Linked DNA regions of Homo sapiens. The protein of the gene in region 1 purifies or fractionates together with the protein of each later gene. This does not show direct contact. Each region holds a gene or a part of one and is shown on either strand. Other genes may lie near its edges.

What was found.
Region 2: the proteins of FOXA3 (region 1) and P4HA1 purify together in Homo sapiens (affinity purification with mass spectrometry; one large-scale study listed by BioGRID and IntAct). This does not show direct contact.
Region 3: the proteins of FOXA3 (region 1) and HOXD13 purify together in Homo sapiens (affinity purification with mass spectrometry; one large-scale study listed by BioGRID and IntAct). This does not show direct contact.
Region 4: the proteins of FOXA3 (region 1) and SMPD4 purify together in Homo sapiens (affinity purification with mass spectrometry; one large-scale study listed by BioGRID and IntAct). This does not show direct contact.
Region 5: the proteins of FOXA3 (region 1) and KHDRBS2 purify together in Homo sapiens (affinity purification with mass spectrometry; 2 studies listed by BioGRID and IntAct, with this or other methods). This does not show direct contact.
Region 6: the proteins of FOXA3 (region 1) and AKAP8 purify together in Homo sapiens (affinity purification with mass spectrometry; one large-scale study listed by BioGRID and IntAct). This does not show direct contact.
Region 7: the proteins of FOXA3 (region 1) and RPA3 purify together in Homo sapiens (affinity purification with mass spectrometry; one large-scale study listed by BioGRID and IntAct). This does not show direct contact.

Annotation. Positions count from the first base shown.
Region 1 is NC_000019.10:45,870,812-45,874,297, forward strand, and holds the end of FOXA3 (hepatocyte nuclear factor 3-gamma), read left to right. Parts: intron 1-1,263; coding exon 1,264-2,247; 3' UTR 2,248-2,986; downstream 2,987-3,486. UniProt on the Homo sapiens protein: Transcription factor that is thought to act as a 'pioneer' factor opening the compacted chromatin for other proteins through interactions with nucleosomal core histones and thereby replacing linker histones at target enhancer and/or promoter sites.
Region 2 is NC_000010.11:73,006,717-73,009,866, reverse strand, and holds the end of P4HA1 (prolyl 4-hydroxylase subunit alpha-1 isoform 2 precursor), read left to right. Parts: coding exon 1-60; intron 61-1,574; coding exon 1,575-1,645; 3' UTR 1,646-2,650; downstream 2,651-3,150. UniProt on the Homo sapiens protein: Catalyzes the post-translational formation of 4-hydroxyproline in -Xaa-Pro-Gly- sequences in collagens and other proteins.
Region 3 is NC_000002.12:176,091,447-176,095,520, forward strand, and holds the start of HOXD13 (homeobox protein Hox-D13), read left to right. Parts: upstream 1-1,274; 5' UTR 1,275-1,444; coding exon 1,445-2,225; intron 2,226-3,033; coding exon 3,034-3,284; 3' UTR 3,285-4,074. UniProt on the Homo sapiens protein: Sequence-specific transcription factor that binds gene promoters and activates their transcription. Part of a developmental regulatory system that provides cells with specific positional identities on the anterior-posterior axis.
Region 4 is NC_000002.12:130,175,103-130,178,602, reverse strand, and holds part of SMPD4 (sphingomyelin phosphodiesterase 4), read left to right. Parts: intron 1-1,965; coding exon of another isoform or gene 1,966-2,010; coding exon 2,011-2,049; intron 2,050-3,500. UniProt on the Homo sapiens protein: Catalyzes the hydrolysis of membrane sphingomyelin to form phosphorylcholine and ceramide. It has a relevant role in the homeostasis of membrane sphingolipids, thereby influencing membrane integrity, and endoplasmic reticulum organization and function.
Region 5 is NC_000006.12:61,891,226-61,894,725, reverse strand, and holds part of KHDRBS2 (KH domain-containing, RNA-binding, signal transduction-associated protein 2), read left to right. Parts: coding exon 1-91; intron 92-3,500. UniProt on the Homo sapiens protein: RNA-binding protein that plays a role in the regulation of alternative splicing and influences mRNA splice site selection and exon inclusion. Binds both poly(A) and poly(U) homopolymers. Phosphorylation by PTK6 inhibits its RNA-binding ability.
Region 6 is NC_000019.10:15,366,288-15,369,787, forward strand, and holds part of AKAP8 (A-kinase anchor protein 8), read right to left. Parts: intron 2,036-3,500; coding exon 1,948-2,035; intron 1-1,947. UniProt on the Homo sapiens protein: Anchoring protein that mediates the subcellular compartmentation of cAMP-dependent protein kinase (PKA type II).
Region 7 is NC_000007.14:7,636,018-7,638,607, reverse strand, and holds the end of RPA3 (replication protein A 14 kDa subunit), read left to right. Parts: intron 1-635; coding exon 636-744; intron 745-1,525; coding exon 1,526-1,608; 3' UTR 1,609-2,090; downstream 2,091-2,590. UniProt on the Homo sapiens protein: As part of the heterotrimeric replication protein A complex (RPA/RP-A), binds and stabilizes single-stranded DNA intermediates that form during DNA replication or upon DNA stress.

The DNA.
Region 1 (3,486 bases):
ACCCTCCTTGGCTCCCAAAGTTCTGGGATTACTTTGGGAGGCTGAGGCAGGAGGATTACTCGAGGCCAGGAGTTTGAAAACAGCCTGGGCAACATGGTGAATCCCCGTCTCTACTAAAAATACAAAAAAATTAGCTGGGTGTGCGGTGCATGCCTATAATCCCAGCTACTTGGGAGGCTGAGGCAGGAGGATCACTTGAGCCCCAGAGTTTGAGGCTACAGTGAGCTGCGATTGCACCACTGCACTTCAGCCTGAGTGACAGAGTGAGACCCTGTAGAAAAAAAAAATTATTTAGGAGTCCAAACAGTTTCTGTTGATGTGGGTTATGTCTATCTACGTTTACAGTATTTACAATTAAAACTGAGAAATATTACAAACATGTATTCATTTAAAAATAGCAATCATTTGTTAGTGTAAAAGATTTTTATTAAAAAAACCAAATTTCAAAAAATTTAGTCAAAAGAGCGACACTGTTTTTTTCCATTTTTGCAAATCAAGTCTGGCCCAGTGGAAGACAGCTGGATTCTCCTGGTTGCTTCTTCATTCTCTCTGTTGGAATATCAACACCCCCTGGAAAACTCCACTGTACACTTCATGAGAAAGAGAGTGAAAAGGGCTAATAATAACTTAGGATTGCGGGTGTGGTGGCTCATGCCTGTAATCTCAGCACTTTGGGAGGCCGAGGCGGGCAGATCACGAGGTCAGGAGTTCAAGACCAGCCCGGCCAACATGGAGAAACCCTGTCTCTACTAAAAATACAAAAAAAAAAAAAAAAAAGCTGGCGTGGTGGCACACACCTGTAATCCCAGCTGCTCTGGAGGCTGATGCAGGAGAATTGGTTGAGCCCAGGAGGCGGAGGTTGCATTGAGGTGAGATCACGCCACTGCACTCCAGCCTGGGCGACAGAGCAAGACTCTGCCTCGAAAAAAAAAATAGCATTATTTTGAAAATAGTTTTGACTTCGTGGACATCCTCAAAGGGTTTCAGAGACTGCCCTGGGAGTCCCGAACCCTGGAGAATCACTTAAAGGATGATGTTGAGTGTATGGGAGCATGGTGGGTGGGAAAGCAGGGGGCAGAAAGGGCGTGTCCAGGGAGTGAGGAGAGACCTTGAGAGACTGCTTTCTACAGATAGAGGTAATGATGGAAGGGATTTGTAGAGAAGGCAAGATGGACAGACAGACGGACACTCAGTGGGTCCTGGGATCCTTTGCTGACCAGCAGAGTGGAGCCCCACTGACCCCTCCTTTCATCTTTCCCCTAGGTCTACTCGCCGGTGACCCCAGTGCCCACCATGGCCCCCCTCAACTCCTACATGACCCTGAATCCTCTAAGCTCTCCCTATCCCCCTGGGGGGCTCCCTGCCTCCCCACTGCCCTCAGGACCCCTGGCACCCCCAGCACCTGCAGCCCCCCTGGGGCCCACTTTCCCAGGCCTGGGTGTCAGCGGTGGCAGCAGCAGCTCCGGGTACGGGGCCCCGGGTCCTGGGCTGGTGCACGGGAAGGAGATGCCGAAGGGGTATCGGCGGCCCCTGGCACACGCCAAGCCACCGTATTCCTATATCTCACTCATCACCATGGCCATCCAGCAGGCGCCGGGCAAGATGCTGACCTTGAGTGAAATCTACCAGTGGATCATGGACCTCTTCCCTTACTACCGGGAGAATCAGCAGCGCTGGCAGAACTCCATTCGCCACTCGCTGTCTTTCAACGACTGCTTCGTCAAGGTGGCGCGTTCCCCAGACAAGCCTGGCAAGGGCTCCTACTGGGCCCTACACCCCAGCTCAGGGAACATGTTTGAGAATGGCTGCTACCTGCGCCGCCAGAAACGCTTCAAGCTGGAGGAGAAGGTGAAAAAAGGGGGCAGCGGGGCTGCCACCACCACCAGGAACGGGACAGGGTCTGCTGCCTCGACCACCACCCCCGCGGCCACAGTCACCTCCCCGCCCCAGCCCCCGCCTCCAGCCCCTGAGCCTGAGGCCCAGGGCGGGGAAGATGTGGGGGCTCTGGACTGTGGCTCACCCGCTTCCTCCACACCCTATTTCACTGGCCTGGAGCTCCCAGGGGAGCTGAAGCTGGACGCGCCCTACAACTTCAACCACCCTTTCTCCATCAACAACCTAATGTCAGAACAGACACCAGCACCTCCCAAACTGGACGTGGGGTTTGGGGGCTACGGGGCTGAAGGTGGGGAGCCTGGAGTCTACTACCAGGGCCTCTATTCCCGCTCTTTGCTTAATGCATCCTAGCAGGGGTTGGGAACATGGTGGTGGGTATGGCTGGAGCTCACACCACGAAGCTCTTGGGGCCTGATCCTTCTGGTGACACTTCACTTGTCCCATTGGTTAACATCTGGGTGGGTCTATTACTTACTGTGATGACTGCTGTCTCAGTGGGCATGGTGTTGATCCACGGGGTACTGTGATAACCACCATGGATACATTTTGGTGGCCCACTGGGTACTGTGAGGACTGCTACATTGATGGATGTTATTGGCTAATCCACTGCATGGTTTGATGGCCACCATCTCGGTTGGCCCTTTGGGTGTGATGGTGATAGCATTTCAGTGACATCTTCTTTGGCCCCCCCCATTAGGTGCTGTGCCCACTTCTTTTTTGGTGTACTTGGCACAGTAGGTGCCAAGTTGGCCACCATTCTGTGTAACACCTTTTTTGGCCCATTGGGTGCTTTGATGGACATCATACTGGGTAGGTGACAACGTCAGTGGGCCACCATGTGCCATGATGGCTGCTGCAGCCCCGTGTTGGCCATGTCGTCACCATTCTCTCTGGCATGGGTTGGGTAGGGGATGGAGGTGAGAATACTCCTTGGTTTTCTCTGAAGCCCACCCTTTCCCCCAACTCTGGTCCAGGAGAAACCAGAAAAGGCTGGTTAGGGTGTGGGGAATTTCTACTGAAGTCTGATTCTTTCCCGGGAAGCGGGGTACTGGCTGTGTTTAATCATTAAAGGTACCGTGTCCGCCTCTTACTGAATGTCTCTTTTCCTTGGCCAGTGGGCCCTGTGGGGCTTGAACACCTGAATTTCTGCTCCTCTGTCCCTTCTGCTTCCTGCCCCTAAGAGCTGGCTGCCTCTGGGGGAGGAGTTGGGGGAGGCATCGACCTGACCTTTGGCTCTTTGCTGTCCCTGACCCCAAGGACAGTTTGCTCACAGATAGCAGCCCCCGCAGCAGTGGGGCCAGAGCAGCAGGGGGAGGTGGCTCTGCAGTGACCAAGGCCATCTCCCCACCCCCACTTCTCAGACATACACACAGACCTCTACCTCTGAGGCTCTGCAAGCCTAATGGCCGAATAATCTTTGGCTAAGCTGGGGAGGAGGAAAAAGGACAGATGAGGTGTCAATTCAATGACTGGAGATCGTGCACATGTTGGAGTTTATCTGCGTGTGTGTGTGTGTGTGTGTGTGTGTGTGTGTGTCCTCTGTGTGTCATAGGATAGCACTATGCCTATTGGGGTCCTCATGGTCTACCG
Region 2 (3,150 bases), on another chromosome or scaffold:
GAGAAGGAGATTATAGTACACGGCATGCAGCCTGTCCAGTGCTAGTTGGCAACAAATGGGGTAAATATTTCATATATTCTGCGAAGATAATGTAATTTTTGTTTCTTATTTTGGAACTATTATCTGTGTCTTAAAAACAAAAGCCCCCATGTTTGCTTAATATGATTTTAACATTGTACAGGATTCAGCCAAACAAGTGCCTAATCATAATACAAATTTGAAATCAGAATTTTGATGACAGATTTTATTTTTAACTATTTTTACTTATTCCAAGAAACAATGACTGACTCAAAATTGAATAAGACAATATCTTCCCCTCAAAGGGTTAATAATCTGATTGAGACATACTAATGGATTATAATGTAGTACATATTAATACAAAAATGTAAACAGAAGATGGTGACTGCCTAAGTTTGGGGAGTCTTCTTCAAAGCTTTTTCTTTAAATTTGGTCCTGAAGATAGAACAGCAGTTTTCCAAACATGTTAGATACCAGGTTCTAATGTGAGGCTCGAGTAGCACCTAATGTGCAAAATTTAAAGAGGCACTCACTCTCAGTCAGGGACATGCAAGTGCAGGACCACATTTTTAAAAAGTAAAAAGAAACAGGTAAAATTAGTTTTAATATCTATTAATTAGCCCCATGTATCCATTTCAATCTGTGTTACTAGCCACATGTTGAGTGGTTACATACAGGACATTACAAGGTTAAGGAGTGAGGCCTGATCAGGATTTTAAAATCTCCCCTTATGATTATAGTGTTTAAGAACCACTGGACTAGAATGAGGAGAGGCTAGTTGGTGAGAGAGAGTTTAGAAAGCTGTTTTCTGTTGTCTAAGTGGGAGATGATAATGGCCTGGATTAAAGCATCAGTGAAAGGGTTGGAGAGCAAATAGATTTGAGAGAGATGTAAGGAAAATTGTCAGGGTTTGATGAATAAAGTGTAGATACAAGGGTTGAAGAAGGAAAAAGAGTTAAGAATTAAGGTTCCTGCTTTAGATATTTTGACTGGGTTCTATGGTACCAGAGACAAAAAAAAAATAGAAAATTAACTGCTTTTGGGATACATTTTTACATGGTATACATTTTTTAAAGGTATTTTGGAAACTTGATGAGCATACAATAGCAATGGTTGATAAGAGAGTTGTTCCTTTAGAGTGCAAAGTTTGTGTTCATTATTGTCTTTGTATTTTGGAGGCTGTACTTTGAAAACAATACATAAAGCAATATTCTACTCTTACCTGTACCTGTATCTTAGGTCCATTTGTGTCTCATTTCAAGCCTCACATTGAACATTGGAAACTGTAAGAAATGCACATAGACTGGCAAATATACATGTGTATACATACATGTATGTACATACACGCACACAAGTGTGTACACATATGTATATAGGTATATAAAATCTGTGTTTTCAGCATTTAGCCAAGTTTTTAAGTAGCATCTGCCTTTATCCGGTTTTGGTGTTGAACTTTTATCCCATGATGAAACTTTGTTATAGACCTAGCTTTTAGAAACTAATTAAATACTGATTAGATTAAGGGGGAAAATTAATATATTACTTTTCTCTCACAGTATCCAATAAATGGCTCCATGAACGTGGACAAGAATTTCGAAGACCTTGTACGTTGTCAGAATTGGAATGACAAACAGGCTTCCCTTTTTCTCCTATTGTTGTACTCTTATGTGTCTGATATACACATTTCCTAGTCTTAACTTTCAGGAGTTTACAATTGACTAACACTCCATGATTGATTCAGTCATGAACCTCATCCCATGTTTCATCTGTGGACAATTGCTTACTTTGTGGGTTCTTTTAAAAGTAACACGAAATCATCATATTGCATAAAACCTTAAAGTTCTGTTGGTATCACAGAAGACAAGGCAGAGTTTAAAGTGAGGAATTTTATATTTAAAGAACTTTTTGGTTGGATAAAAACATAATTTGAGCATCCAGTTTTAGTATTTCACTACATCTCAGTTGGTGGGTGTTAAGCTAGAATGGGCTGTGTGATAGGAAACAAATGCCTTACAGATGTGCCTAGGTGTTCTGTTTACCTAGTGTCTTACTCTGTTTTCTGGATCTGAAGACTAGTAATAAACTAGGACACTAACTGGGTTCCATGTGATTGCCCTTTCATATGATCTTCTAAGTTGATTTTTTTCCTCCCAAGTCTTTTTTAAAGAAAGTATACTGTATTTTACCAACCCCCTCTCTTTTCTTTTAGCTCCTCTGTGGTGAATTAAACGTACTTGAGTTAAAATATTTCGATTTTTTTTTTTTTTTTAATGGAAAGTCCTGCATAACAACACTGGGCCTTCTTAACTAAAATGCTCACCACTTAGCCTGTTTTTTTATCCCTTTTTTAAAATGACAGATGATTTTGTTCAGGAATTTTGCTGTTTTTCTTAGTGCTAATACCTTGCCTCTTATTCCTGCTACAGCAGGGTGGTAATATTGGCATTCTGATTAAATACTGTGCCTTAGGAGACTGGAAGTTTAAAAATGTACAAGTCCTTTCAGTGATGAGGGAATTGATTTTTTTTAAAAGTCTTTTTCTTAGAAAGCCAAAATGTTTGTTTTTTTAAGATTCTGAAATGTGTTGTGACAACAATGACCTATTTATGATCTTAAATCTTTTTTAAAAAAATGTTTGTTTTCTGTGTGGTGTTTTTCGTATTTAAATCCGAATGTATGATGTGGCAGTAACAGGTTAACTTATGTAATTTCTTTAGTACATAGGGCTTAGGTTTATACTCTTGGTTTCCACTCACACTAATGTCACATGGTTAAGAAAAACTTAGGCTCTCTGAAGTTTCAGATATTTCATGAATCAAGATGTGCTTCCTTCAAAGAGAGCTCTAAAATACTTTACTGTGGTTATGAAGTTATTATGGGCCAGGCATGGTGGCTCACGCCTTCAATCCCAGCACTTTGGGAGGCCGAGGCAGGCGGATCACCTGAGGCTAGGAGTTCGAGACCAGCCTGGCCAACATGGTGAAACCCCATCCCTACTAAAATTACCAAAATTAGCCGGGTGTGGTGGTGCATGCCTGTAGTCCCAGCTACTTGGGAGGCTGAGGCAGGAAAATCGCTTGAACCTGGGAGGCAGAGGTTGCAGTGAGCTGAGATTGCACCACTGCACTCTAG
Region 3 (4,074 bases), on another chromosome or scaffold:
TTAGTTGCTGAGATTGAGGGATGGTGGGCTGGAGCTCTGAGGCTGAGGAGCAACAGAAAGGGATGATGAGGGACAGGGCTGTAATCCCTAACACCCTGGCAGCTTGGTTCCAGAGCTGGACCTAGCCCCACCAGCACTGCCCTGAGCCCACCTAACCCCTTGAAGTCAGACCGTTTCTCTGGGCTGCTCCTATCACAAAATCCGAATTTGCTTGGAACAAGCGCCCTCTTAATTTGCCCCTCTCAGTTCTCTGCAGTTGACAGCTTGGAAAAGGAAGCGAAACAAAGGTCCCTGGGAAAGTGAAGTTTTCAATTAATTTGGTGTGAGAAACGGGCGGGAGTGGGTGGTGACTGCAAAATGCGAGGCCGGTCGGCTGCTGGAGAGACACAGAAGTTTCACGGTGGGAGGCTGAGTGGCTTTCTCCCCCGGCGCCGTTCTCAGGGTCTTTCTGCGGGTCGAAGAAGGACCCGCGGGAGCTGAGAGGCCCAGGTCGGAAGCACTCCCGGCTGGCCCAAGAGTAGAGGCGAAGAGCGTTGAGTAGGCATCCATGGACTTTTCTTTCTGGGACAGATTGTCAGGCTCACTGCGCCGATGCCTGTCTTTCATCTGTTTAAGTCTCTGCCGCCAGCCCCAAGGGCGCTTCATGGGCATTTTCCGAACGGACAGCGTGTGTGTATAGGAAGGGTCTGCTCCAATGCCTCTTACCTGTGTGAAATGCCTTTGCCGGGTACCAGTGCACAAGGTAGGGCAAATTAGCTCACTCGGATTTGGGGTCTAGAAGTCGACTAACTGAGGGATTCAGCAACAGGATAAAAAAATGGGCCTGTTTTCACATCATTCTGATCATCTCTGTCCTTCGTCTTCATTTTGCTGTGCAACTCGGGGAGCCGAGGAGAGGTGGCAAAAACAGCGGTTGCCGAGACAAGGCGCAGGCCTTGGCGCCCGCCTCAGTCGCAGACAGGGCCTGGGATGGGCCGTCGCGCAATCAACTCGTGGGGGTGGCTGCAGCGCGTACGCCTGGGTCGGGGGGGAGGGCGGGAATGGGAGGTGGACCCTGCAAGGGGCAGGAGAGGGGTGGGGGCCGGAGTGGGTGGGTCCAGCCAGGCCTGGGCCGGGAGCCAGGCTCCCCCGCGTTCCTACCCCCACGTGGCCGCGCGCAGCCAATGGCACGCCCCCGGCGGGGGCCCTCGGGGCGGGAGGCGGCCCCCCGACCGGCCCAGGCCCCCTCCCAACCTGAACTTCGTTTTTATAAACGTCCCGCGATGAGCTAACCTGTTGGAGGGCAGGCGGGCCGGAGGCGGGAGGCTCACAGAGGGAGAGAGGGCTAGAGGAAGAGGGCGGGAGCGAGCGAACCAGAGAGAAAGGAGAGGAGGGAGGAGGCGCGCCGCGCCATGGTGTCCTGCGCGGGGCCAGGGCCAGGGCCGGGGCCGGGCCAGGCCGGGCCATGAGCCGCGCCGGGAGCTGGGACATGGACGGGCTGCGGGCAGACGGCGGGGGCGCCGGTGGCGCCCCGGCCTCTTCCTCCTCCTCATCGGTGGCGGCGGCGGCGGCGTCAGGCCAGTGCCGCGGCTTTCTCTCCGCGCCTGTGTTCGCCGGGACGCATTCGGGGCGGGCGGCGGCGGCGGCAGCGGCGGCTGCGGCGGCGGCGGCGGCAGCCTCCGGCTTTGCGTACCCCGGGACCTCTGAGCGCACGGGCTCTTCCTCGTCGTCGTCCTCTTCTGCCGTTGTAGCGGCGCGCCCGGAGGCTCCCCCAGCCAAAGAGTGCCCAGCACCCACGCCTGCAGCGGCCGCTGCAGCGCCCCCGAGCGCTCCAGCGCTGGGCTACGGCTACCACTTCGGCAACGGCTACTACAGCTGCCGTATGTCGCACGGCGTGGGCTTACAGCAGAATGCGCTCAAGTCATCGCCGCACGCCTCGCTGGGAGGCTTTCCCGTGGAGAAGTACATGGACGTGTCAGGCCTGGCGAGCAGCAGCGTACCGGCCAACGAGGTGCCAGCGCGAGCCAAGGAGGTATCCTTCTACCAGGGCTATACGAGCCCTTACCAGCACGTGCCCGGCTATATCGACATGGTGTCCACTTTCGGCTCCGGGGAGCCTCGGCACGAGGCCTACATCTCCATGGAGGGGTACCAGTCCTGGACGCTGGCTAACGGGTGGAACAGCCAGGTGTACTGCACCAAGGACCAGCCACAGGGGTCCCACTTTTGGAAATCTTCCTTTCCAGGTAGGGGCGATGGAGAAAAGGGACCGACACGAGGGAGGGGGAGAGAGAAGGAGAAAAGAAAGGACTAAGAGTATGCGCCCCTACTTGGGAGTGGGAGTTGTGCCTGTGCTCCACACGTGACCAGGGTTAACCCAGTGGAAATTTGTCCAGTTCGTGTGAAATCTGTAAATTCCTCCTCTGATTTCAACTGCCTCCGTCACTGCCCTTTCTTTCCTGTGTGCAGCGCAGACACGTTTTTCTCCTAAAGTTGAGAGTCTCTGCGTGCCCTTTCCTTGGGCCTCTCCCTTTTCTCCTAAAGAGAACTTTTTCCTAAGAAACCTGACAGAGTTGGGTCCCCCCATTTTCAAAGACATCACTGCCCCAAGATGACTACTAAAGCTTGTTAGATCAAGCTCACGAACTCCTAACATAGGAACGCGGGAAATCAAAATTTGAGCAAAAGACCTGAGTTGGTATGTGTCTATGTATGTAAGTTTGTTTTTATACAACCGACATTTGCAGAAACTGTCCTCATGAACGTGCCCAATAACCACACCATAAAATTGCAAGCTTGTTAAGATGCCGGTTTGAGAAACTATGATAATCAATCAAATTAACCATTGTTGTTAAGTGCAAATAATCCTTCTTTAATAACAGGTAAGTGTTATGTCTATGTACATAATAAAGACCAAACAGCATGGCATTTTTTAAAAATTTCCTGCACCCCTGCAAACGCACACACACACACACACACACACACACACACAATCCTCAGCTAGGTGCTCCGAATATCCCAGCCTAATTTTTCTTGTGCTTTTGTTTGTATCAGGGGATGTGGCTCTAAATCAGCCGGACATGTGCGTCTACCGAAGAGGGAGGAAGAAGAGAGTGCCTTACACCAAACTGCAGCTTAAAGAACTGGAGAACGAGTATGCCATTAACAAATTCATTAACAAGGACAAGCGGCGGCGTATCTCGGCTGCTACGAACCTATCTGAGAGACAAGTGACCATTTGGTTTCAGAACCGAAGAGTGAAGGACAAGAAAATTGTCTCCAAGCTCAAAGATACTGTCTCCTGATGTGGTCCAGGTTGGCCACAGACAGCTTAGAAGCCATTCGGTTGTCTCCAAAAGGCCTTTGGAAAGACTTGAATATGTATTTAATTCCCCCCACCCCCTGCCAATGGTGGCAAATTTTGTGAATTGTTTTTCTCTCTTCCCCTTATCTGGCTCTAAAACCTTCTGCTGCCCAACCTGACTTTGTAGTTCTGATTTTTACTTGTTTATTATTGGTTTTGTTCTTGCCTAGGGTTTTTAAAATATCTGTTTTTAATGTTTTGTTTCTCCCTCCAGGCCAGTATAAAGGGACTTGAAGTATTTTTTAATAATCCGCCCCCCAATGAACTTCAGAAGTGCCATTCTGATTTAAGGGTTTTTTTAAAAAATTACTTTATTTGTTCATTCCCAGCACTGATTATCTTCATAATCCATTAGGACAGAATGGTTTTCAGTCGTTCATATCCTGTAATTAGGTAATTGAATCATTAGCTCTCAGCAGTTGCCCTGAGGCAAGTGGAAAGGCAGGCAGTGCTCTGGGGTCACCGAGAAAGTCTAAAAACAGGAGGCTGAAGGTACTGTGATGGCTTTAAAAATGGCCACCTTATTAAATAGGGATTGTATCAATATTGAAATGAAGACAATCTTTCCAACTTTGGGTGTTTCACTTGCTGTTTTAATTGTTTGTTTTTAACACTTTGTAGGTTTGTGTTTTCATAATCTTTAATTTGAAACTCATGTGTCCTCATGGATCGTGGATGCCTTCATTTCTTGAGCTCTCAATGCAGACATTTAAATGGCTGCAATCAGTAGA
Region 4 (3,500 bases), on another chromosome or scaffold:
GACTGGTCTCAAACTCCTGGCCTCAAGTGATCTGCCCACCGCGGCCTCCCAAAGTGCTGGGATTACAGGTGTGAGCCATGGTGCCCGGCCTTTGATCCTAGTTTTCTCATGGCTTATTCAAAGGCTCCCTTGGCAGAGCTTGCTCTTCCCCTCCGTTCATTGCATAGTGCACAGGTAATATGGAGGGGATTTGCCCCTGTCTCAGTTTTGTGAGGTGGTGTTTGTATTGGAATCTTGGTTCTGCCACTTACTAGCTGGGTGGGGGTAAGTGAATTATCCCATTTCTGCCTCTCCTTCATCATCTGTACTGACCTGCAGTCATAGTACATCTGTACCCATCGGGTTGTTGTGAGGTTGGTTTTTCTATTCTTGTATGACAAACTTAGCAGCTTAAACCGGCATCCATTTATTATCTCATAGTTATGTATGCAGAAGTCCAGGCATTACAAGATTAAAATCAAGGTGTTGGTAGCTTTGCTCTTATCTGGAGACTCTAGGGAAGAAGCTGCTTCCAGGTTTATTTAGGTTGCTGGCAGAATCCAGTTCCTTGGAGTTGTAGAACTAAGGTCTTTGTTTCCTTGCTGGCTGTCAGCTGGGGACTACTCTGTAACTTAAGGTCCACTAACTTAGGACTCTAATTGGATGTGCAAAATGCCGTCATAGCAGTACCTAGATGAGTATTTGATTGAACAAACAGGGGTCGGGAATCTTGGGCTGCTATCTTTAGAATTCTGCCTACCACTGAGGATTAAATGAGGAGATATATAGAGAGCATTTAGAGCGAGTCCTGGTATATAACAAATGCTGTACAAGCATTACCGAGGATTCAGTACTACAAACTTGGCTCTGAAGCTGGCCACTATGGGCTGCAGGAGAACAGTATTTCTTTTTTTCTTTTTTTTTTTTTTGAGATGGAGTCTTGCTCAGCCTTCTAGGCTGGAGTGCAGTGGTGTGACTCAGCTCACTGCAACCACCTCTCCTGGGTTCAAGTGATTCTCGGGTCTCAGCCTCCTGAGTAGCTGGGATTATAGGCACCCACCATCATGCCCGGCTAATTTTTGTATTTTGGTAGAGACGGGTTTTCACCATGTTAGCCAGGCTGGTCTTGAACTCCTGACCTCAGGTGATCCTCCTGCCTCAGCCTCCCAAAGTACTAGGATTACAGGTGGGAGCCACCATGCCCGGCTGAGAACAGCATTTCTATAAAAGATGGGAATTGCTGGCCAGGCGTGTTGGCTCACACCTGTAATCCCAGCACTTTGGGAGGCTGAGGCGGATAGTTCGCTTGAGTCTGGGAGTTCAAGAGCAGTCTAAGCAACATGATGAAACCCCCATCTTTACAAAAAGTACAAAAATTAGCTGGGCTTGTTGATGTTTGCCTGTAGTTCCCGCTAGTTGGGAGGCTGACGCAGGAGGATCACTTGAGCTCAGGAGTTTGAGGTTGCAATGAGCTATGATCGCACCACTGTACTGCAGCCTGAGTGAGCAAGCAAGAGCCTGTCTCTAATCAATAAGTAAGACATGAGAATTGGCAATGTAATGTGTGTTGCGAATTGGTAATGTAATGTGTGATATTCTCCTGGGCATTGTGAAACTATGTAATATTTTGTTAGGGCCAGGTGCAGTGGCTCACACCTGTAACCCCAACACTTAGGAGGCCAAGGCAGGAGGATCAGTGGAGGCCAGGATCCTGGGCATCACAGCCTGACAAACTAGCCTGGGCAACATAGCGAGACCCTGTCTCAAAAAAGAAGAAAATTAGCCAGGCATAGTGGCACGTGCCTGTACTCAGGAGACTGACGTGGGAGGATTGCTTGAACCCAGGAGTTTGAGGTTGCAGTGAGCTATGATCGTGCTGCTGCATGCCAGCCTGGGCAACAGAACAAGACCCTGTCTCTAAAAAAATAATATAAAAAGATTCTGCTGTGTTACAGATGTTGAGATTTTGTCTTTGTTTTTCCACAGTGGTTTGCTAAGAAGGCCATTTTCAACTCTCCACTGGAGGCTGCTATGGCGTTCCCTCACCTGCAGCAGCCCAGCTTTCTACTGGTAAATATCAACTGCTTGCATGAGTGTCAGTGTGGCCATAGTTCTGTAGATGTGGGACTTGAGTGTTCTTCCCATTGACTTGAAGAACTCTGTAGTGGTTGTTTTTTAGGGGCATGTGATGGAAACAATGGCAGACTCCTTAACTTGACTGTGCCTCCTTATTACTACAGGACCTTGGGGTTACTCAACTTCTGGGCTCTGGGTTTTCTCACACAAGTTCATTCAAATTCTATTTTCTCTACTTCCCAAGGGTGTGAGGAGGAGGAAGAGCAAGTGAGAAGGATGTATATCAGAATGTTCATGACTTGTAAATTCTTAAATAGATATGAAGTATTCTAATAATCAGTCATAACTGTCATCAGTGAAAAATGGAGACACTGTTGTGCGGGGGCCTGCTAGGTTGCACTTTAAGTATTAAACATGATGCTGAGAACTGGGTGCAGTGGCTCATGCCTGGAGTTCCAGCTACTGAGGAGACTGAGGCAGGAGGATTACTTGAGCCCAAGAGTTTGAGACCAGCCTGGGCAACATAGTAAAGACTCAAAAAGGAAAAAAAAATGATACTGAGAAGTGAGAAGTTAGATATGAGGCAAGTATTGGTGATGAAAGTTCCTAATTTTAGTTCTTAGGAGGTGTTTTTGTAAACATTTATGTGGAAGGACATTCTTCCTCAGTGCACCCCACTAGAGTCAACAGGTCTGGCCCATGGCCAGATAGCTCAGGTCTCCATCTCTGTCTCAATCACTGTGAAATCCACCCTTGTTTGGAGGTAGACAAGGCCTTAGATATCCTTTGGCAAAGCTCTCTAGGTTGAAATTCTAGCCGTTTCTCCTGATCTTAATCCATTCGCACAGATGCCCTTTTTCTCCTTGTAGTCAGGGTGCTTTCCTCACATCCCACGACTAGGTAGATTTCATTAGTCCTTGTCCTGAGTCTTTTCTGGCCTCTCCATTGCCTTCATGATTAGTGTCTACTTGGCTGAAGCCATCTATAATTTTTGTCTGCCCTGTGTTTTAAGATCATTGGTTTAGTGGTTCAGTGTCTACCGAATAAAGGACAGCTCATTTAAGAGAGCTTCTGCCATAGCCGTGATGTTGTTGGGCGTTCTTACTGATGATCACAATGGTGTAATCACGGTGGTCCATCAGGCTGGAAATTTCCAGTTGATGCGTACAAACTCAGTTATACTCTGTGGTTTGTGAGGGGTGCCCTTACACAGTCAAGATCCTCTTCTGGCTGTGGGGCTGACTCTGGGACCAACCCCTACTTATGGATTGGTGGAAGTCAATCCTGTTCTGATCATGTGCAGCACTCTGAGGGGGTACTGGGAAACAAGGCTGATAGTTCCTGGTCCAGAGAGCATAGAACTACGGCCTCTCCTAGTAGTACTCTTTGGGCCACTGACACACATGAGGGGCTGGGGAACCAGGCCAGAGGTTATGGGTCTGACT
Region 5 (3,500 bases), on another chromosome or scaffold:
AGGTGTCCCTACCCCTCGAGCCCGGGGGGCACCAACAGTGCCAGGATACAGGGCACCTCCTCCTCCAGCCCATGAAGCTTATGAAGAATATGTAAGTACTCTTAAGAAATAAGTTGTAAGGATGAGTTAAATTGATTAGTTAACAAGCTACGTCTCAAACTGTTCATATACCGTGAATATAGCAGGTAATGTTTGTTGCAGAAACGAATGTCATTTACAACAGAATTTAAGCAGTGCATTTAAATGAGAGCATTTTGAGAAAAGGTTTCATTTTACAGGTGTCATCACTGTTAGTGCTAGTTAAAGAGCTTGTATTTTAAGAACCAAACTTATCCTTAGGAAGTTTGATCAGATTTCAAATGAGAAATAATTATAAACAAAAGGTGAATTGCCATGTATTCAGAGATTTCTGGAACTTGACAAAGATTAGCATAAAACTCAGAAATATTTAACAAATATAATATGATTATATTATAAACTTTGGGAGTATTGTAAGACCGTGTGGCTGGTCTTTCATTTATATATCCTGACTCTTTCTTTCACCATATTAAAGATGTGGATTGGCATAAAAAATTCAAAAAAATATACAATGAATAGACAAAATGCAGTGTTTCCAAGCATCCCCCTCCCTTCCTATCTACTGTATCTTTTGGTCATCTTATGTATCTAAACATCTTTTAACCTTTAGTTCTGATTGTCAGTATTCCACTAATTACATTGTGGTCCTTGTGTCCATTTCTCCGACTAGATTGTGAAATATGTAAAAAGGGAAAATTTACTAATAGTGTAACAATAGGAAGTCTTCTGTAAATGTTTTTTTTTTTATTATTATACTTTAAGTTTTAGGGTACATGTGCACAACGTGCAGGTTTGTTACATATGTTTACATATGCCATGTTGGTGTGCTGCACCCATTAACTCATCATTTACATTAGGTATATCTCCTAATGCTATCCCTCCCCGCTCCCCTCACCCCACAACAGGCCCCAGTGTGTGATGTTCCCCTTCCTGTGTCCATGTGTTCCCATTGTTCAATTCCCACCTATGAGTGAGAACATGCGGTGTTTGGTTTTTTGTCTTTGCGATAGTTTGCTGAGAATGATGGTTTCCAGCTTCATCCATGTCCCTACAAAGGACATGAACTCATCATTTTTTATGGCTGCATAGTATTCCATGGTGTATATGTGCCACGTTTTCTTAATCCAGTCTATCATTGTTGGACATTTGGGTTGGTTCCAAGTCTTTGCTATTGTGAATAGTGTCGCAATAAACATACGTGTGCATGTGTCTTTATAGCAGCATACTTTATAACCCTTTGGGTATATACCCAGTAATGGGATGGCTGGGTCAAATGGTATTTCTAGTTCTAGATCCCTGAGGAATGGCCACACCAACTTCCACAATGGTTGAACTAGTTTACAGTCGCACCAACAGTGTAAAAGTGTTCCTACTTCTCCACATCCTCTCCAGCACCTGTTGTTTCCTGACTTTTTAATGATTGCCATTCTAACTGGTGTGAGATGGTATCTCATTGTGGTTTTGATTTGCGTTTCCTTGATGGCCAATGATGATGAGCATTTTTTCATGTGTCTTTTGGCTGCATAAATGTCTTCTTTTGAGAAGTGTCTGTTCATATCCTTTGCCCACTTGTTGATGGGGTTGTTTTTTTCTTGTAAATTTGTTGGAGTTCATTGTAGATTCTGGATATTAGCCCTTAGTCAGATGAGTAGGTTGTGAAAATTTTCTCCCATTCTGTCAGTTGCCTGTTCACTCTGATGGTAGTTTCTTTTGCTGTGCAGAAGCTCTTTAGTTTAATTAGGTCCCATTTGTCAATTTTGGCTTTTGTTGCCATTGCTTTTGGTGTTTTAGACATGAAGTCCTTGCCCATGCCTATGTCCTGAATGGTAATGCCTAGGTTTTCTTCTAGGGTTTTTATGGTATTAGGTCTAACATTTAAGTCTTTAATCCATCTCGAATTAATTTTTGTATAAGGTGTAAGGAAGGGATCCAGTTTCAGCTTTCTACATATGGCTAGCGAGTTTTCCCAGCACCATTTATTAAATAGGGAATCCTTTCCCCATTGCTTGTTTTTCTCAGGTTTGTCAAAGATCAGATAGTTGTAGATATGTGGCATTATTTCTTAGGACTCTGTTCTGTTCCATTGGTCTGTATCTCTGTTTTGGTACCAGTACCATGCTGTTTTGGTTACTGTAGCCTTGTAGTATAGTTTGAAGTCAGGTAGCATGATGCATCCAGCTTTGTTCTTTTGGCTTAGGATTGACTTGGCAATGCAGGCTCTTTTTTGGTTCCATATGAACTTTAAAGTAGTTTTTTCCAATTCTGTGAATAAAGTCATTGGTAGCTTGATGGGGATGGCATTGAATCTATAAATTACCTTGGACAGTATGGCCATTTTCATGATATTGAGTCTTCCTACCCATGAGCATGGAATGTTCTTCCATTTGTTTGTATCCTCTTTTATTTCATTGAGCAGTGGTTTGTAGTTCTCCTTGAAGAGGTCCTTCACATCCCTTGTAAGTTGGATTCCTAGGTATTTTATTCTCTTTGAAGCAATTGTGAATGGGAGTTCACTCATGATTTGGCTCTCTGTTTGTCTGTTATTGGTGTATACGAATGCTTGTGATTTTTGCACATTGATTTTGTATCTTGAGACTTTGCTGAAGTTGCTTATTAGCTTAAGGAGATTTTGGACTGAGACAATGGGGTTTTCTAGATATACAATCATGTCATCTGCAAACAGGGACAATTTGACTTCCTTTTTTCATGATTGAATACCCTTTATTTCCTTCTCCTTCCTGACTGCCCTGGCCAGAACTTCCAACACTATGTTGAATAGGAGTGGTGAGAGAGGGCATCCCTGTCTTGTGCCAGTTTTCAAAGGGAATACTTCCAGTTTTTGCCCATTCAGTATGATATTGGCTGTGGTTTTGTCATAGACAGGTCTTATTATTTTGAGATATATCCCATCAATACCTAATTTATTGAGAGTTTTTAGCGTAAAGTGTTGTTGAATTTTGTCACAGGCCTTTTCTGCAACTATTGAGATAATCATGTGGTTTTTGTCGTTGGTTCTGTTTATATGCTGGGTTATGTTTATTGATTTGCTTATGTTGAACCAGTCTTGCATCCCAAAAACAGTCCAGGACCAGACAGATTCACAGCCGAATTTTACCAGAGGTACAAGGAGGAGCTGGTACCATTCCTTCTGAAACTATTCCAGTCAGTAGAAAAAGAGGGAATCCTTCCTAACTCATTTTATGAGGCCAGCATCATCCTGATACCAAAGCCTGGCAGAGACACAACAAAAAAAGAGAATTTTAGACCAATATCCCTGATGAACATCGATGCAAAAATCCTCAGTAAAATACTGGCAAATGGAATCCAGCAGCACATCAAAAAGCTTATCCACCATGGTCTTCTGTAAATATTAAATTTAACTGATGCAAGCCAGATCATTGTACTATGAAAATGATTTATTT
Region 6 (3,500 bases), about 31 Mb from region 1:
TCTCTTTATTAGATTATTTAAGTTTAAAAATAATTAAAAAGAAAATGTCATCTCAGTTTCCATGTGACATGAAAAGTCATCTACTCTATCCATTTATCTGTTTAAAATAACAAGGGTTTCAATGTTCCTGTACCACTTAAGAAGAAACAGTTCTGCGTTTGGTTCCTGGCTTCGTTTTGCTAAGCATTTCTCTCTTTTTTTTTTGAATCCTTGATTTAAGGTTCACATGGAACAGTGATTTTCTTTTTTTTTTTTTGTTCCTGAGATGGAGTCTTGCTCCGTCGCCCACGCTGGAGTGCAGTAGCACAATCTCGGCTCACTGAGATGGAGTTTTTATTTGAGATAGAGTTTCGCTCTTGTTGCCCAGGCTGGAATGCAGTGGTGTGATCTTGGCTCACTGCAACCTCCACCTCCTGGGTTCAAGCAATTCTCCTGCCTCAGCCTCCCGAGCAGCGGGGAATACAGGCATGCGCCACCATGCCGGACGAATTTTGTATTTTTAGTAGAGACTGGGTTTCTCCATGTTGGTCAGGCTGGTCTCGAACTCCCAACCTCAGGTGATCCGCCTGCCTTGGCCTCCCAAAGTGGTGGGATTACAGGCGTGAGCCACTGCCCCCAGCCCGTTTCTTTTTCTTTTTGAGACAGAGTCTTGCTCTGTCGCCCAGGCTGGAGTGCAGTGGTGCAACCTTGGCTCACTACAAAGTCCACCTCCCCAGTTTAAGTGATTCTCCTGCCTCAGCCTCCCGAGTAGCTGAGATTACAGGCACCTGCCACCATGCCTGGCTAATTTTTGTAATTTTAGTAGAGATGGGTTTCACCATATTGACCAGGCTGGTCTTGAACTCCCGGCCTCAAGCGATCCGCCAGCTCAGCCTTCCAAAGTGCTGGAATTACATGTGTGAGCCACGGCATCTGGCCCCTTTTACTAAGCATTTCTTTGAACACGACAATCACTGCCCAGACTGGGCGCAGTGGCTCACGCTTGTAATACCAGCACTTTGGGAGGCCAAGGCGGGCAGATCACAAGATCAGGAGTTTAAGACCAGCCTTGCCAACACGGTGAATCCCGACCTCTACTAAAAATACAAAAATTAGCCAGGCGTGGTGTCAGGCGCCTGTAATCCCAGCTACTCGGGAGGCTGAGGCAGGAGAACCGCTTGAACCTAGGAGGCAGAGGTTATAGTGAGCCGAGATTATGCTATTGCACTCCAGCCTGGGCGACAGAGCAAGACTCCATCTCAGAAACAAACAAACAAAAAGAAAATCACTGTCCCATGTGAACCTTAAGGTCAAGGATTCCCCAGCATCACATGATCACTGGTGATTTCAGTTTCTAGTCAGAAGCCACTTAACTCCTGGCAGGGAGAGGCAGGCACATGGTGTGCTCACAATGACATCCTTTGGGCTCAACATTTTTGCAATCCTTTTCTATTGTGGGACAAAATCTTGATGGTAGGATCATCTCTCTACCTGTCTCCTAGCTGTGTCAAACTCCAGGGGTGGTCTGGATTTGGATAAGGTGAACACAGGACAGTGTCTGAGATGCCAGACACCAGGCTAGGGGGCAGGGATGCCCCTCAGGCCTGCAGGAGAGTAACAGAGCCCGCTGCTGAGCAGTTATGGACCACACAGACCCACCAGCAAGGCTGGGATTCCAGAGGAATAGAGACACAGGAGTCAAACACCAATCCTCTAAAGCAAGAACAGAAACCTAACCACCAAAGCAACGTCCCAGCCATCCTAGAAGACAGGTAGCTCGTGTGCTGGGAGCACGAGTGATGGTCTTTTCTGCACTCCCAATTGTTTACTGTTTTGCCTCCCACTGGTTTGGCCAGAGGAGTCAGGCCACCAGGCCCCCAGCATTGTGGAGCGAGGACAGGTGAGCTCGGCAGCGCCTCCACCGCACGAGTCCACCTCCTCCTGTGGGGTCGTGTGCCCGCGCCTCACCTGTCGGCTGCACGGTCCCGCGTCCTGTCTCTTCTCCTTTGCTTTTCCCTTCTCTTCTTCACATCCTCGTCCTCGTCCTCCTTCTCTCCTGTAACAGACAAGTCCCTTCGAGACGCTCTGAGTGGCCTGCAAAGGAGCTGAGCTCCAGGGCCTGGTCGGGGGGCTGCAGCTTGGCCACCGCACCCTGTGCCCTGCCACTGCCTGCACCACGCGGCAGGGTCCAGGATGCCCCAAGGCACTGTCAGAGACTCCTGGTGGACACGGGCCTGGAGTGAGAGCCCGGAGTAGTCACCAAACTCCCCACATGGCCTGAGGCGGCCAGGATGGGCTAGGGACACAGCCTGCCCACCCCATGTGCACCACAGCCCCCTGCTCCCTCTGTCCTCCCCATTCTGCTTGTCCAATCTCATGCCCTGCGATGGGGTCTTCTCCCAATATCACAGGAGAAGCCAATTCTCCCCGGATGAAGAGGCGGCAGCTGAAGGCCTCAGGAAGTGAAGCAGCTGCTCCGCCGCCCTCTATCCCACCTCTAGGTGGACTGTGACGAGCGTCCTGGCGGCCCCGTCTGAACTAGGGCCTCAGCAGGTCTGACAGTCCTTGCTGGCCCGACCTCTATCTTCCACTCACAAAAACCGTCAATCTAGGGCTTTCCCAGGGCTGCGTGGGAAGCAATCCTAGAAAAAAATTTGGGAAGAGACCAATTGGTCCTCCCGTCCGTCCCCCGGGGCCAGCAGAGGAGCTCCTCGGAGAGCCACGCGGCCATCATCCCAGCATGAGGCCAGGGACGGACGCTGAAAAAAGGTTGGAGAAGCATCTGAACTGTAACCCCTACCCCTGATGCCAGTCCCGAGACTGTCCCACGAAGATGGCGACCGGCGTGCGCTGCTCAGAAGCCTCTCAAAAGGGCGTGTGGGATTTTTGGCAAGAGGTCACTGCCTGAAACTATGACTGCTGTTTAATAGCAAAGTCATCCCGGGTAGGTAGCAGGACCTGCGCGCAACAGACATGTCACCTTTGCTTTAGCATTGTGCCGCTAAGCGCTCGGGGCGCCCCGTGCTATGGACAGGACTGCTGCGGGTCGCGGGGGGGAGGACCGCAGAGGGCTGGCAAAGCCTGAACAGGAGGAACATCTAAGCCAAGGGCCTTCAGAATGGATGGGAGCAGGGCCACTGAGGAGCCAGCCTATGATCCTTGGGGTAACCAGCTACGGAAAGACCCACAGGACAGGTAAAGAAACGAGTGGCTTCAGGGTGAGCTCCAGGCCGCGGCACCTCAGGCCGCTCTGCCATGAGGGATTTAAGCCTGCTCTGCTGTTGCTGCAGACCCTCTGGTCTCCTGCATTGGACATGAAGAGACCTGCTGAAGGGCGCCCGCCTCTCAAAGACCCAGTGGGCCTGGGTGCTCCCGACCCCGCAGGTGTCTGCTGTCACACACTCGCAGGCACGAAGCAATGTGCAGTGCAGCTGCCAGTATCCCCACCACAGAGGCCCACAGCACAGCCCAGGGCAGGCGACTGAAGGAACTGGACAAAAGGAAGCCCCAGAGAAAACACT
Region 7 (2,590 bases), on another chromosome or scaffold:
AGGCATGCTTAACCATGCCTGGCTAATTTTTGTTTTGTTTTGTTTTGTTTTGTTTTGTTTTGTTTTTTGTAAAGATGGCATCTCCCTATGTTCCTCAGGCTGGTCTTGAACTCTCGGTCTCAAGCAATCCTCCTGCCTCGACCAGCCCCTCAAGAGTTTTCGATTTTATTTTATTTTCTATTTTTGTTCATATATTTCCAGTTTTTACTTATTTATGTTTGCATTTTATGTTTAACATACTTAAAACTTTTTTTGGTATTTTGTGAAGACAAATCCATATGCTGTTTGGTTAATGTATACAGAACACATTGTGAAATACAGATTATAGAAGATTCCTCTCATAGGATATTACTGCTTATAGAAATGCTGGACGTTTTCAATAGTGATTTTGTCTTTAACTTGAATTGTAGCTTTGGACTTGAAGCTACTGCTAAAGGTAGCAGGAATTTTAACATGCTGACAGTTAAGTACTCAAACATTTGTTAACAAGTTACATTTTAACTTTTACACTGGTAATTCTTAAAATTACTTTGTTACTTGAAGTGATAGATTAGTAACCTGTATAACAGTTTTCCAAAATAATTGTCAACTGAAAATGTGATATCACCAAATCGATGTCTTGTTCTGTGTCTTAGCTTGATGAAGAAATCTCTGGAATTGTGGAAGTGGTTGGAAGAGTAACCGCCAAGGCCACCATCTTGTGTACATCTTATGTCCAGTTTAAAGAAGATAGCCATCCTTTTGGTAAATAAAGCATTCTAGTATTGACTGGTTTTATGTAATTACATAACATACAGTTTTATATAACTGTATGTAATTACATAACATACAGTTTTATATAACTGTATGTAATTACATAACATACAGTTTTATATAACTGTATGTAATTACATAACATACAGTTTTATATAACTGTATGTAATTACATAACATACAGTTTTATATAACTATGTTTTAACATACATTTTGTATTACATACAAAATTGTATGTATTACATACAATTACATAACATAAACATACAGGAAAACAGTTTTATTTTTAGTTTGATATATATTGGTCTAGAGTTTTAGTACTGCCACATTTTCAATTTCTATAGAATTTTGTGATCGTAAAGGCAAATGGGGGTACATTTTGTTTTGGCCTGCTTTTAAGTAGTGCTTATATATGTAAGAAACTCAGTAAAGATTAATTAATGTTTGTTGAAAGATAATTTTTTTAAATATAACAAAAATAGTATTAGTTTTTTTGTTGTAATATCTGAATTGAAGGAATTGAATAATGCATAACACCCAAAACACTACCAGGCAGAAACTGCCTGTATAATGAACATCAAAATGGATGGTACTCCCATGTCTTTTTTTTGGTGCCACAGTTAAATACAAGAATCCATAATCCATATCTCCATTTTTAGAAACTCACTTCCAAAAGGGTGAGAAAAAGGAAATAGGTAAAAATATCTTAGATAATAATTGATGTTACAACTTTCCATTGTAGATTAAATGTTTGCTTAAATGTTTCTTTCAGATCTTGGACTTTACAATGAAGCTGTGAAAATTATCCATGACTTCCCTCAGTTTTATCCTTTAGGGATTGTGCAACATGATTGATCTTGATGGATTTTCATACGATTGTAAATGAGCTATATTAAAGTCTATTAAAGGAAGCCCTTCTTGTTTGAGGGAGAGATTTCTGTGCTTTCTCATATTTAATTTGCTGTTTTTAAGATATTCCAACCTAGAGTTTTTGATGGAACTGATATATTGACAGTTCTCACCGAAGTCCTTTTATAAAGAATTGCTACTCCAATATATGGTCAGATTAGATGCAAGAATAAAGCAGTTGTCCGAGTCTAAGTTTCTATTTTATTAATAAAAACTAAAATGGTACGTACTATCGGTCATTTCATTTTCATTCTTTTAATCATGTATTCAAGCACAAACTTGAAATTTCATAGCCATAAGGTCAAGATTTAGACCTACCAAATAAAACCTTGGGCCAGCTGTGTTAAGGATTTGCTCACCTTTTCCCAAACTATACCTTGATAATTATTTCCTTGATACCCTACTTACAAAATGAAGTAGATGACATTAAAAAGGCAAACAGAGACTGGCCACGCTGGCTTACTCCTGTAATCCCAGCACCTTGTGAGGCCGAGGCGGGTGGATCACCTAAGGTCAGGAGTTCGAGACCAGCCTCACCAATATGATGAAACCCTGTCTCTACTAAAAATACAAAAATTAGCCGGGCGTGGTGACATGCGCCTGTAATATCAGCTACTCAGGAGGCTGAGACAGGAGAATCACTTGAACCTGGGAGGCGGAGGTTGCGGTGAGCCAAGATTGCACCATTGCACTCCAGCCTAGGCAACAAGAGTGAAGCTCTGTCTCAAAAAAAGGCAAACAGAATCTTACATCTTCTGTAATCTGTGAAGTATCTCTTTTTCTGGCTTGGTTTGGTTTTGTTTTTGTAGAGACAGGATCTCACTCTATTGCCCAGGCTGGAATACGGTTGTGCAATCATAGCTCACTGCAGCCTTGAACCTCTGGGCTCAGTCTCCCAAGTAGCTCAGACTACAGGTGGGCACTACCA